Linked DNA regions of Homo sapiens: region 1 is linked to region 2. The links come from fine-mapping of genetic effects on gene expression. A gene starts in region 2. The other region holds a variant in brackets. All regions are shown on one strand. Distances are between the middles of the regions. Region 1 overlaps LRPPRC (leucine rich pentatricopeptide repeat containing). Region 2 holds the start of LRPPRC (leucine rich pentatricopeptide repeat containing).

The links. PIP is the estimated chance that this variant, and not a neighbour inherited with it, causes the effect.
Region 1: its variant is the best candidate, but not a certain one, in a credible set for the expression of LRPPRC in esophagus mucosa (GTEx, PIP 0.74).

The regions. Positions count from the first base shown.
Region 1 is chr2:43,898,327-43,902,721 of GRCh38, forward strand. LRPPRC (leucine rich pentatricopeptide repeat containing) reads right to left here. Exons shown (of 38, transcript NM_133259.4): 32 at 2,994-3,198; 33 at 1,140-1,279; 34 at 893-1,008. Among named protein-coding and RNA genes, the nearest start is that of ABCG8, 62 kb to the left of the region's middle. RefSeq lists an enhancer at 44-338. The variant T/C (reference allele first, on the strand shown) is at 2,026.
Region 2 is chr2:43,993,729-43,998,123 of GRCh38, forward strand. LRPPRC (leucine rich pentatricopeptide repeat containing) reads right to left here and starts at 2,261. Exons shown (of 38, transcript NM_133259.4): 1 at 2,071-2,261. The coding sequence starts at 2,219. RefSeq lists enhancers at 1,812-2,463, 2,259-2,538 and a silencer at 1,839-2,158.

The DNA of each region.
Region 1 (4,395 bases), 95 kb before region 2:
TTCCCTATCTACTACTTAAGATCTTTCACAGCTGGTAAAAATGTAAGGGAATATAATACTATTTACGATCAGAAATTGGTCCCACGCCTCAATTTGACACAGGGAGTCTACACAAACACAGCCGTTGGCGGGATCACGGTGACTGTTTGACTGCCACCTGCTGGGAAGGGGCTCCCCGGCGGTGCCTGTTTGTGTACATTGCCAGTGGCAGCTAGGATCACCCACTGTTCTGTCGGCACTTGGCATAGCTTTATATTTAGTGCTGTTAAAATGGCATGAATGCAGTTGTCTCCTTCCCTGAAGGTTGCTAATTTAACTGAGAGTGCGGGCCACAGAGACCTGCATTTGTCATTTAATGTGTCTGTGACACACAAGTGAATAGAAAGCATATTCAACTCTTAATAAACCTTGAATAAGGCACTGAGAATGTTTGAGTATTCAAGTGAGAAGCTGTACTTGAAAAGCAAACATTTCCTACTTTTTGTTTGCAAACTGTGTTGCCATGGTGACGCACAGTATCTAGCGCATTTGAGAAATTAAAGTAGAAAATCAAAGGAATTGTTGTTTTGCATTATCTATCTGCACAGAAAGATTTGTCTTTAATCATTTCAGCGAAACTCGCTGCCCCATACCTACCCCCGCACCACCCGCCGCTCCCCGCTACCTCAATTCTAAAGACATTTCTAGTTTGATCTGGCATCTTTAAAACCAGTAACCTAAAATCTACCATCCAGTCCTTGTCCTGCAACCGTGATTCACACTGAATGTAAACAAGCTAGCTGCACACCACACTGAATTTCTAGTATTCCACCACACGCCTATGTCTAGTAATTTCTCAATTTACTTCTTGCAAGCCTCGAGCCCCACTGCTCCATGAGTGGAGGGTCATTACCTGTAGGAGAGCTCTGGCATCATCCACCTTGCCTGCATCCACAAGTTGAAGGAAAAAATCAGTGACAGGTTTATAAATTGCAAACTGATTGGCCAATCTCTCCGCCATGATGCTTACTGGAAAAATGACAGGTAAGAAAAATCTTTCATTAGAACAGTGGTATAACTCACCTACCAAAGAAATTTGGTCTAGTCTCACTAGAGAGAAAATGTGCTTGTGTGTTCTTTAGCACAAACAACTAACTTACTCTTTTCAACTGCTGGTTCCAACTGCTCCTCTATTACTTTTCTGAATAAGTATGCCAAGCCGAAGTATTGGGGTTCAATGACTTTATTCTCTGAAGTAAGCATATTTTCAATGTTTTCTATTGCGGCATCTATGTTATTACTGTTAAAAGCAAAATAAATTACTTAAAAATTTGCTTTTATGTTAATATTACAGGCAGTTTAGTCTAAGAACTTACTTTTATATCCACTCATGCTAATACTTTAGGAAAAAAATGAAATACATTTACACTTAACCAAATAAACACTAGGCAACTGAAACCCTGAATCACATTTAAGTAGCAAAAACATTCACTAGCTGGTTCGTGCTGCAGTGGTTGTTTATTTTGCTTCACAGCAGTTCAAATAGTTGCTTGTTTTAACAATGCTCTACAGACAAGATCAAACAACTATATACAGGAGAATTAATGAAGATAACTTTTAAAATTCTGTATCTTAAATATTTAACTTAATTTTTGCCACTCTTTGGATATAAAATGAAAACTTGTATAAATGCTACAATTTTGGCTTTATGATCCACAACTTGTCACTACTGCATAAAAATAGTATTTAACATCTCAGGATTCTTAAAGATACTGATGATGTTTCAAAAGGCATATATGCATGTCTCTAACTTATGGTCGCCTCAATTTCTTTTTGTCAGGTATTATACATTTGGAAAATACTCAGTTTATACTAAAAATCTCAGGAAAAAGTATCTTCACACTTTACATTGAAAAAAATCAGTTACATGGTCTTATTTAGCAAGTTATGGTAAAAATTATCTCTATGACTATCTTTTTGGTTAAGGTAATCTATAATGGATACTTTACTGTTACCATATGGCATACTAAATCCAATCAGTCAATA[T/C]TGTGTTGAAATTATTATATTAAACATAATTCTCTAACTAAAAATGAATACTGTTACAATATATTTCTCTTACAAGTTTTAAGGAATTACTTAATAGTGAATATGTTCTCCGAATCATATAAAACTGTGTTTATGTGGTAAAACTTTAAAATTCACCCAGTTCTTAGATGAGTAATTTCTTCAATCTTCTAATGTAAAACAATCACATTTTCTTATTAAAGGGAAGTTCTATCTGGCGAAATAGTTTGAAAAGGTCAAAACAAAACACAACTGTTTCTCAAACAAACAAAAAAAAACCCCTACAAAAACAAACATTATATTTTAATATCATGTCCCATTAAATGTATGCAAGATTACTAAAGAACATTTTTTCTAAAAGCATACTGAAAGTATCAAATTCCATAAAGTACTTTGCTAGGGAGCTTATTAAAAATCAAGTCCTTATTTATTTCTACAGGGGTAATTCTCAAAAGGAATCTAGAGACAGTGGTAAGAAAATCAGCTCTAAATACCTCCCTTTTTGTGGGGGTGGGAGAGTGTTCACGGGGTGGGTAAGGAATATGAATACGGAAATGCACATTTTTAATAAGCTTGCGGGGCCTTCTGCTTCACAATATTCTACTAGTGTCCCTATCAAATATTACTGACAAACAAATGAGATCATTTTTCACTTCTGAACAAAGTGTTTCGACAACAAGAGGCCTGGCATATATACACAGGAATGAGAAAGGTTATCAACTGTGGAGCAAGATTTATGAATTTGGTAAATGCTGTTTATTCTAAGATTTAAGGTAAAGAAAAAACATATTTTTCAACATATAATTATTCCCTAATCAGCAACTAGCATCAACATTTCCTCTGCAGTTGATAAGGTTTCCACATGTCTAAAAAAGTTTTTAAAAGGTGGTATCTGAGGCAATGCCCATTCTAGTGACCAATGAAGGAAAAGAAGGCTTGCAAATACTCACTTCTTTATTTGAGCCAAAGCAATGTTATTGATGAAAACCATTTTTGAAAGTCCAATGGAGTCTTCGAGTCCATTTAACATCTTCTGAACTACTTCTATGTTTTCAACATCACCCTTCATGGCCAATGCCTGGATGACACGGGTCACTGCTAACCTAGAAGGGGTCTGCTGCTGATCCAATACTGTTTTCAGTGTTGTCACAGCCTCTAAAATACAAGAGCAGGAGATGGCTTTTCTTATATGACCTGTGCTGACTTTAATGCATTTTGAAAACCAGCTTTTAAATATGAGCACCAAATGGCCATAAACAAAAAGCTATGAATAATTAATTTTAGATTACAGAAAATTATTAATACTTCATGAGATACCCCCAAAAATTATTTACTTGACTATATAAGATATTAGAGGCCCGAGGAATTTCTTCTTTAAGTCACAGAGAAAATACAAATGTTACCGACAATATGAGTTCCATTTAGGGATAACATTCAGTGACTAAAGTTGGTAAGTTCAAATGAATACAAATAAGAAAGATTTTCTAGAGTTTCCAAAAATGTGTGACTTCTATCCATGTTCATACTTGTCCAGATTTTAACTCGAAGATTAAATGATCATCAAAACTTAATATCCCAACAATTCTTTCTCAAAAACACTAAAAACATTGATCCTCTAGGATCAATGTTCCAAACTGAAACATTGAACTTTAACACCAACAAATTTATTTTATGATTAGATGCCTTGTGATTATTTTCCTGCACTAAATTAAAAAATAATGCCTACTGATTTCCACAAATACAGACAGTCCCTGACTTACGATGGGTTTATGGGGTAGTTAATGCATTTTCAACTTTATCCCGACTTAGCCCCATCGGTAAGTTGAGGAGCATCAGTATAATCAATGGAGTTTTGTTTGTATGTTTTTTTGAAGTATCACACTTTCAAGTACTTGATTATAAATAACTATGGAATAGCCTTCTAGCTAACTGACTCATAAAACTGTAGCAAAATCATGATATGAAATAAAGTGGTAGACTGAGGAGTAGCCTAACAATCACCCCTACCATTATCGAAGAAAACTTAATAGCTTTATAGCAACTAAAGCAATGTAACTTAGACAAAACTAAGACTCTCCAAACAGCTTTCCAACTAAGAACAGCTTAGTTTTACAGAAAAATGGGGAAAGTGTATTAATTGAAGTGTACTCAAAATACAGTGGAAAGACATGATGAATTTAGTGTTCATTAATGAATAAAGAATTTATGATTATTTGAAATCTACAATCTTAAACCACTCATTCTCAAATGAGAAAAAAGAAAAACAGGTTAAAAAGCATAGTCAATAAAAATTTAAAAATACACATGCACATATAGGAAACAAAAAATGTTTTTATACTATTTAAAAATATT
Region 2 (4,395 bases):
TCTACTAAAGAAAAAAAAAAAAACCAGAGAAATAAGTAATGATATCAGACAAGTGAGGTGTGCCACGAATAAATCTACAGTGGGACCGGCATGTTTTGGATTGAGTGTTGAGGTAAGGCTTCCCTGAAGAGACATTTGAGATCTGAATGATAAGAAAGCAACTTTACAAAGATAAGGGGGAAAGGCCTTTACAGATAATGAAACTGAGGAACAGACAGGTTAGTAAGATGGCTGAGATTACGCAGTAAGTAAACAGAACCCAGGTCTGATGAACACCGAGACCACCCTTTCTACTAAACTATGTTCTCTCTTTATTCAGTTCTCCTCAAATGCAACAGTGAAGATAAAAGAAAATGTGGACCTTCCCCTGGCCTCACAGAAATGCTGAGGATTAGAAAAATAAGAGTAATGGGCACAACTTTCTCAAAAGAAACTCTGAAAGCCAAGAGATGTATATAGTTCTGTGCTCAGAGGCATGATTTCGGAAAGTTAACTGTTCAAGCCCAATAAGAAAATATAGGCAGACTCCAAATTACAAGTACGCTCCATTCCAAAGATTATAACTAAGTTGTTAAGAAATCATAAATTATTTCCTCCACGTAATTTTATGGCGAGATTAGGTGTTCAGGCTGGTCCATGAAGGTCCGCATAACCGTAGATATTATGACTCCTGTAGTAACCAACAAAGCACTTACTAGGCATCAGGCCCTATACTAAGTGCTTAATACAGATAATTCTGCAATATTCCTAACACTACTACTACTCCCACCTTATAGCTAAGGAAGCTGAGGCCTGGAGATGTTAAGTAACTTCTCTAATGGCATAATGCAGATAATTTGAGGATAAAATGCAGATAAATCTGGAGTAGGCTGCAGTCTGGGCCCAGCCTACTGCAGATCCCTGGCTCTCAGTCCTTACGCGAGCTCTCAAAGTACCTTAATTTACAAGCATCAGTCTTTCAAAATCATTTTTTCTCCAATGCTAAAAGCTCAGCACCTATCTCCCCTTCTCTGGTGGTCAGAATACTATTAATAACCAAATGAACACTTTCACCAACTTTTCTTTTCCCCTCCACTACAAAAGTCTATACCAAACCTATCTCTGATAAACCTCAAACCATGAGAGCATTTATTCGCCTATCTGACACCCACTTAGAGTTTAACTTGCCTTTGCATCCCCAGATTCCAACAGAGTGCCTTGCATGTGCTCATTCATTCAAAGACACTTACAGGACGGGAGCGGTGGCTCACACCTGTAATCCCAGCACTTTGGGAGGCCGAGGCAGGAGGATCGCTTGAAGTCAGGAGTTCGAGACTAGCGTGGCCAACATGGTGAAACCCAGTCTCTACTAAAAGTACAAAAGTTAGCCTGGCATGGTGGCGCACACCTGTAATCCCAGCTACTCGGGAGGCTGAGGCAGGAGAATCGCTTGAACCCGGGAAGCGGAAGTTGCAGTGAGCTGAGATCGCGCCACTGCACTCCAGCCCAACTCGCGCAACACCTTCTTAAATGCTGAAGGAAAACTCCATTCAAGAGAACGCAGGCAAAAGCCCAAAGTGATCATAATCCAGCGTCCAGCTTTAAGTCATCCGTGGCTCACCCAAACTCCCAACCCACTCCTCGCCGCCCCATCCCTCGCAAAAAGCTAAATTTCCAATATCTAAATGCTAGGTGGTTACTGATCACCAACGGTGACCGCACGTGGGACACCACCCAAGCTGGCCAAGTGTAAGGAAAAGACCACCACCCGACTTCCCAAAGCAGTCTTCAAAGCCCCCCTCATCTTCGTTGACCATGGGTACCCCGAGGGCAGTAAGGTCCAGGCTGAAGTGGCGGGGGCAGGATTCAAGCCGGAGGCAGGCCATGCCCACAGCCGTGACCTTCTGAAGGCGCTTAACCCTGTCACCCGAAAACCCCTGGTAGGGAGCGTGGTGCGGAGCCCGGGGAGGCTAGGTCCTGGGGCGGGGAGAAGGGTGGCGAGCACAGGCAGGACCCGGTCCCTGCCGGCACCCACGACCCCGGGGGACCCTGGCGCCGCAGCTTGCCTGGAGAAAGGGCCTGGGCACTCACCCGGCCACGGGCCCGGCGCGAGCGGCGGGCAGATAGGAGGCGGCATGCAGCCGGCCCGGGCCGCCAGGGAGGAGGCGCAGGGAGAGCGGGAGGCGCGGGGCCGCCCCGGCACGCAGCAACCAACGCGCGGATCTCAGCAGGGCTGCCATTGCTCGAACGTCCCCGCAGCGGGAAGCACGCTCCGCCAGAAGGACAGGAGGAGCATGTGACCGCAGGGTAGCCTGGCGCGGCAGAGACCAACTGCCGGGCGTGCCAAATGTGGGGGGAGCGACGGATTGTTTTAGGTTGGAAGATGGAAAACCGCACTTCTCCGAGGACAGAAGACCCAATGTAATATTTACATAAACGATGTTGCTTGATTCATTATCGAAGCTTTTCTTTTCCGTCTTCCGTCTCCGATCTGGGCATCGTGTTCATTCGCTGCACCCCTGCACTCCTCTGTTGGTAGAGCCGCAAGAGGTCAACTCCTCCCAGGTTGGCGCAGAGGCTTGTGGGAGGCCAACTAGTAAAAATACCGAGAACTCTCGAGGAGAGCCGACTATGAAGATCCCAGGACGTGGGAAGGTTTCCCCCGCCCCCGAGTGCAGATGTTGCTGCTAACGTTCAGCCCTGACGCCATGTCCAATAGGAACGGCCCTTCACTCTCAGAAACGCGGGCCGGAGAAACCGTGGAGGTCTTTTGCACCTTGCCGTTTGCCTCCCAGGTTCAACATGATAGGATGTGGATTATCAGGGCCTGGGAACAGTGTAAAGGAACGCGCAGGTCCCCACCCTAAGCGCGTACGCGGGGCCTCGCTTTAGAAAATAAATGAATTCTACCAAAAATCCTATAGTTTTAAAGCTGGAATTGAACTGACTCTCTTCCCCAACCCTCCACCCCTACCGCGCCTCTCCCTTCAGTAAATGCACATATACATGTGAGAAGTAAAAGAACAATGTAATTAAGAGTCTCCAGCCAAATATGGGGAGAAAACTGGCAAGTTAAACCCATCGCTGGCGAAGTGGCTCACGCCTGTAATCCCATCACTTTGGAAGGCCGAGGCGGGTGGATCACCTGAGGTCAGGAGTTGGAGACCAGCCTGGCCAACATGGTGAAACCCCATCTGTACTAAAAATACAAAAAATTAGCCGGGCGTGGTGGCGGGCGCCTGTAATCTCAGCTACTCGGGAGGCTGAGGCAGGAGAATTGCTTGAACCCGAGAGGTGGAGGTTGCAGTGAGCCAAGATGGCGCCATTGCACTCCAGCCTGGGTGACACAGCGAGACTCTGTCTAAAACAAAACAAAAAAACCACGTCGCTGCCTTCACAGGGCTTACAGACTGGATCGGTTCCCTGTGCACACGTGGGAAGCTGAGAACAGCCTTCCACTCCCTCTACACCTGCCTGTCCCCTACCTATCACGAGGCAAACGCGGCGGGTATTTCCTCTGGAAGCCCTCCCACGGTCATTTCCGAAGTGACTGTTTATCCCACTGGACTCCTTATCAGTTAATCCCACGAACTCCTTATCAGTAGGGACTGTGATCTCTTATTGTAGGCCATACACCTACCCAGTGCCAGACACACAGTAGGTCTCATTAAATATGTGTTAAATTAATGTCTATTTTGAGATGACCTAGCTCACCTCTCCTTTGAGAGATGAGGGAACGAAGACACCCGCTCCAAGCCCCCAAAAGAAACAAGGTGAATTGATTGACTCTGGGTTATATTACTGAGCACTGGGAATACAAGTTATTCACCTATTCAACACGTATTTATTGAATACATATCCAGTGCCATACACTATTTGAAATCCTAGGAATACAGCAGAGAACAAAACAAACCAACCCTAGATTCTAATTAAGCTCTTTAAAGTTTAATTTGGGAAGACAAAAAGAACTGTGATGCAAAATACGCCAGGGTAAAGGGATTGAGGGTGTCATGGGGGGAGTTGCTTTTTTTTTTTTTTTCTCAAGACAGGGTCTTGCTCTGTCACCCAGGCTGGAGAGCAATGGCACGATCTTGGCTCACTGCAGCCTCGACGTCTGGGCTCAAGCGATCCTCCCACCTCAGCCTCCTGAGTAGCCGGGATTACAGGCCCAAGCCCTGGCTAATTTTTGTATTTTTAGTAGATACGGGTTTTTGCCGTGTTGCCCAGGCTGGTCTCAAACTCATGGCCTCAAGCAATCTGCCTGCCTCGTCTCCCAAAGTGCTGGGATTACAGACATGAGCCACGACGCCCGGAGAGTTGATATTTTAAATAGGAAAAACGTTGAACAGAAACCTGAAGGAAGGAAAGGAGGAAGCCAGGAGAATTTTCTGGAAGGAGAAAAAAAAAAAGAGTGGT